Linked DNA regions of Homo sapiens: region 1 is linked to region 2. Evidence: fine-mapped expression QTL. Tissue or cell type: thyroid. Region 2 holds a variant in brackets; the other region holds the start of a gene. All regions are shown on one strand. Distances are between the middles of the regions.

Region 1 (2,688 bases), 360 kb after region 2:
ATCGACCTGGGTTTTGGGAACACTGCAAAACCTGCCGTGGGAGGGAACTCCTGAGAAAACTCCTCTGCAGTGGGAAGAGATGGTATGGAAGGCAGCTTCCTCAAATGCTGGATAACCGCCTCCTAGGAGTGGGTGCTCCGTCAGGAATCGGTGCGAGGTCGCAGGACCAGGATGGAATTTCTGCAGGTGGTCCTAGGTCTGAGCAGCACAGTAGAATCACCTGAGGCTTTGAAAACTATTGAGCTCCACGCATTGTGGGAAACTGAGTTAACTGGTGTCTGGGGCTGGCAATGTCTTTAACTCTTACTATTCTAATAAGTCCCCAAGGTTGGGAATCATGGTAACCCGCAGGGTGGGCATCAGCCATCCTCCATAGCTCCAGCCATTTCTGTCTGTGCGGGCCCCCTCGCTGCTGCTTTTCATGGTCTCCCTGAGGGCCGAGCGAGGCTGAAGAGGTGGGGTCAGCCCGGAACAAGGATGAGAAGGCAAGGCGCACCATTCTTTCATTGGTGTTTCTCCAAACACCCTGGGCTCCCCTGGCCTCACAGCCTGGAGAGTCTCATTCTGAAAGCGTAGGAGGGCGCCCGGGAATCTTTTTAACAAGCCAACCCAGGTGCTTCTTACAATCAGGAAAGTTTGGGGAACGTCACTGTACACCCTTTTCTGGGTCCAGGTCATGGAATGGAAACGTGAGCCAATCTATCAACGTAAAACCTAACACTGTTGATCAAAAGTAACGCCCAGGTGTCTTGTGCCTGCGAGTCCAAGCTTGTTTCTCGGGCGAGAGATGCCCCTTTGGGCGCTTAGGGCCGGGCGGGGTCGCGCGCCGGGCTGTGGGCCGCGGTGGAGACCTGACCCGCACTCCGAGGGTTCCCAGAGAGCCGGGGAGCGAGTAGCAGAGTCATCGTTTCCAGCTTCAGCCTGAAAAGCTGGACCGTGCCGCCGCATGTGCGCTTGGCAGCCGGGCGCCCCGGGCCCTGCGGCCACATCATCCTGGGGCGGGGACGTGTGCGCTCCGGGCGCCCGGACGCCACTGAGCCACGTCTGAGCCGCCCACCCTCGGGGGTGAGCGAGCCGCGGCTCGGGGCGGGACCCTGGCGGGGGGACCCGAGCGGTCTCTAGGACCCGCGGGACGCCGCCAACTGGCGGGGGTGCGGGGGAGACAATAATTTGTTCCGCGGTAATAAGAACGGTGACTGCTGGCCGTGGATCCATTTCACAGGCCTGCCTTCTCTCACTAACGCTCTTCCTAGTCCCCGGGCCAACTCGGACAGTTTGCTCATTTATTGCAACGGTCAAGGCTGGCTTGTGCCAGAACGGCGCGCGCGCGCGCACGCACGCACACACACGGGGGGAAACTTTTTTAAAAATGAAAGGCTAGAAGAGCTCAGCGGCGGCGCGGGCGCTGCGCGAGGGCTCCGGAGCTGACTCGCCGAGGCAGGAAATCCCTCCGGTCGCGACGCCCGGCCCCGGCTCGGCGCCCGCGTGGGATGGTGCAGCGCTCGCCGCCGGGCCCGAGAGCTGCTGCACTGAAGGCCGGCGACGATGGCAGCGCGCCCGCTGCCCGTGTCCCCCGCCCGCGCCCTCCTGCTCGCCCTGGCCGGTGCTCTGCTCGCGCCCTGCGAGGCCCGAGGTAAGTCGCCGAACTAGGGCGGCTCGCTGCCCGCCCCGCCGAGGGCACCGCACGCTGCGCCTGGGCGCGCCGAGGTCCAGGGCTGCCCCGAGGGGCGACGCGCCCCGGCGCATCTCCGGAGCCCCGGGGCTTGCGCTTCCAGCGCGGCGAGACCGACCCCCCCCCCCCAGGTGCCAATTCCTTGGGGAAGGGCGACACTTGGCCCGCAGCCCCACAGGAGCCAGTACCTGCCCCGGAGGGCACAGCCTCGGGACCGCTCCCCCGTCCTCACCCTCTTGGGTGACATTTGCAGATGTCTCTGTATCTTGACATTTACACGTGTCACTCGGGACGATGCGTGTCGGGTCCTCTTGCTGGCCCTATCCCGCAGTGAATATCCCCACCCCAGGCTCCGGGCCAGCCCTTCACCAGGTTTCCTTTCCAGCCCCGCCTCCCCCGCTAACACACTTAGGGGGGCGCGCAGCGGCCCCGCAGGTGAGGCAGCCCCCTCCTCCGCAGGTGTGCCTGCTGCTCTCCACAGCAGGCTCTATTTTCATAAACTGACTCTCTTACCTACTTCTTTAGTTTCCTCTCTGCCCCTCTTCCTGGCTTCCAGGTCACTCCCTAGCTGTCAGTCGCAGGCAAACTTTAGCGGAATTCTCCCTCCTTCCTCCACTCAGTTTCTCCGCCGTAAATAATCGCCCCCATCAACTTGGTGCACAGCGAGAACTTACTTAGTTTAACGTACTTAGTTTTACAGACTTAGGTTTTCCCGAGTTGTAGCCCCTTAAAATCGGGCACCTGTGGCTCCCGTTTGCACAGTGAGGACTCACCCAGCAGGTGCCTTTTTAAAAATCCGGCAACTTCCCCGGGTCTCCGCCGCCGCCGCCTTCTTTCTGCCGCCCGGGGCGCTGTCGGTCCACCGATGAACGACTTCCCTTGGCCGCAAGCTCTCAAGTTCTGTGATTCTATATAACAGGCATTTATTTTTCAACAACTGGCCTAAATCACGAACCGTTACCACTTTATGATACGTTTTATTTTGCGATTGCCACTGCTGCCCTCCGCCCCCACCG
Region 2 (2,688 bases):
ATCTGTGACAAACCCACAGCCAACATAATACTGAACGGGGAAGAGTTGAAAGCATTTTCTTTGAAAACTGGAACAAGACAAGGATGACCACTCTCACCACTCCTCTTTAACACAGTACTGGAAGTCATAGCCAGAGCAGTCAGACAAGAGAAATAAATAAAGGGCATCCAAATAGGTAAAGAGGAAGTCAAACTGTCACTCTCTGCTGATGATATGATCATTTACCTTGAAAACCCTAAAGACTCCTCCAGAAAGCTCCTAGAACTGATAAAAGAATTCAGCAAAGTTTCTGGATATAAGATTAACATACACAAATTAATAGCTCTTCTGTACACCAACAGTGACCAAGTGGAGAATCTAATCAAGAACACAACCCCTTTTACAATAGCTGCAAAAATAAATAAATAAATAAATAAATAAATACTTAGTAATATACCTAACGAAGTAGTCAAAAGACCTCTACAAAGAAAACTGCAAAACACTGATGAAAAAAATCATAGATGACACAAACAAATGGAAACACATCCCACGCTCATGGATGGGTAGAATCAATATTGTGAAAATACCATACTGCCAAAAGCAATCTACAAATTCAGTACAATCCCCATCAAAATATCACCATCATCTTCACAGAATTAGAAAAAACAATTCTAAATTCATGTGGAACCAAAAAAGAGCCTGCATAGCCAAAGCAAGACTAAGCAAAAAGAACAAATCTGGAGGCATCACACTACCTGATTTCAAACTGTACTATAAGGTCATAGTCACCAAAACAGCATGGTACTTGTATAAAAATAGGCACATAGACCAATGGAACAGAATAGGGAACCCCAAAATCAGCTCAAATACTTATAGCCAACTGATCTTTGACAAAGCAAACAAAAACATAAAGTGGGGAAAGGACACCATTTTCAACAAATGGTGCTGGGATAATTGGCTAGCCACATGTAGGAGAATGAAACTGGATCCTCATACAAAAATCAACTCAAGATGGATTAAGGACTTAAACCTATGACCTGAAACTGTAAAAATTCTAAAGATAACATTGGAAAAACCCTTCTAGACATTGGCTTAAGCAAGGATTTCATGATCAGGAACCCAAAAGCAAAAGCAATAAAAACAAAGATAAATAGCTGGGACCTAATTAAACTAAAGAACTTTTGCACAGCAAAAGGAACAGTCAGCAGAGTAAACAGACAACCCACAGAGTGGGGGAAAATCTTCTCAGTAAGAAAAAAAAAATCCCATCCAAAAGTGGACTAAGGACATGAAGAGACAATTCTCAAAAGAAGATGTAGAAATGGCCAACAAACATGAAAAAATGCCCAACATCACTAATGATCAGGGAAATGCAAATCAAAACCATCAGGCGACACTGCCTTACTCCTGCAAGAATGGCCATAATCAAAAAATAAAAAAAACAGCGG[ATGTTGGCATAGATGCGGT/T]GATCAGGGAACACTTCTACACTGCCGGTGGGAATGTAAACTAGTACAGCTACTATGGAAAACAGTGTGGAGATTCCTTAAAGAGCTACCCTTTAATCCAGGAATGCCACTACTGGGTATCTACCCAGAAGAAAAGAAGTCATTATACGAAAAAGATACTTGCACACACATGTTTATAGCAGCCCAATTCACAATTGTAAAATCGTGGAACCAACCGAAATGCCCATCAATCAACAAATGGATAAAGAAACTGTATGTATGTATGTGTGTGTGTATATATATATATATATATGATGGAATACTACTCAGCCATAAAAAGGGACAAATTAACAGCATTTGCAGTGACCTGGATGAGATTGGAGACTATTATTCTAAGTGAAGTAATTCAGGAATGGAGAACCAAACATTGTATGTTCTCACTGATATGTGGGAGCTGAGCTATGAGGACGCAAAGGTATAGGAATGATACAATGGACTTTGGGGACCTGGGGGGAAGAGTGAGGGGGGGTGAGGGATAAAATAATACAAATGTGGTGCAGTGTGTACTACTTGGGTGATAGGTGGACCAAAATCTCACAAATCACCACTAAAGAACTTACTCATGTAACCAAGTATACCACCTGTGCCCCAATAACTTATGGAAAAATAAAACAATAATAATAATGATAAATTCTACAAAAAAGGAATAGAACACAGGGCACTGAATTGCAGCCCACTCTCAGCCACACTTGCCACTTGACAACCACCTGTTCTCTGCTAGACCCTGCCATGAGCCATTACGCAGATTGTCTTGTTTGTTTGGATAATGACCTCTTGAGGTAGGATTTCTTCCCTCCCATTTCACAGATGAAGAAACGGATTTGCAGACTGTAGAATGTAAATTACTTGTCCTCTGTCACTCAACCAGCAAGTGGCTGAGCTGGGCCCCACATCCAGCTTCTTTGACTTCCAAGCCCATGTTCTTCCACCAGGCAGTGCTGTCTTTCTTCTTGGCTGGGCATTTCTCCATATTGTTTCAGCAGGTCTGGAGAGGAGGTTATCAGAACTCTGTAGAGCCTCTTGCCTGGATGGTTGGTTGCCATTTTTCAGCACAACCCACAGGAGCTAGACCTGCACCTACTGGCCTGTTCTGCCATACTTTTTAAGGTTGATTGCTTCACTGTCAATTTCAGACTCTCTTCCTCAGGCCCTGTGAGGTTCACCCAGCACATACAGTCTTGTGGGCCTCCCCACTCCCCAAGCC

Alleles and levels. Positions count from the first base shown, and alleles are read on the strand shown. Sizes are in standard deviations (SD) of each study's normalised expression.
As copies of ATGTTGGCATAGATGCGGT replace T in region 2, the expression in thyroid of the gene that starts at base 1,214 in region 1 goes up (small effect, 0.34 SD a copy in GTEx).

Evidence for each region. PIP is the estimated chance that this variant, and not a neighbour inherited with it, causes the effect.
Region 1: ADAM12 starts here. The variant in region 2 is fine-mapped to the expression of ADAM12 in thyroid (GTEx, PIP above 0.99).

The regions. Positions count from the first base shown.
Region 1 is chr10:126,387,003-126,389,690 of GRCh38, reverse strand. It overlaps ADAM12 (ADAM metallopeptidase domain 12), which reads left to right and starts at 1,214. Exons shown (of 23, transcript NM_001288973.2): 1 at 1,214-1,633. The coding sequence starts at 1,546.
Region 2 is chr10:126,749,335-126,752,022 of GRCh38, reverse strand. No RefSeq gene overlaps it. Among named protein-coding and RNA genes, the nearest start is that of C10orf90, 80 kb to the right of the region's middle. The variant ATGTTGGCATAGATGCGGT/T (reference allele first, on the strand shown) is at 1,428.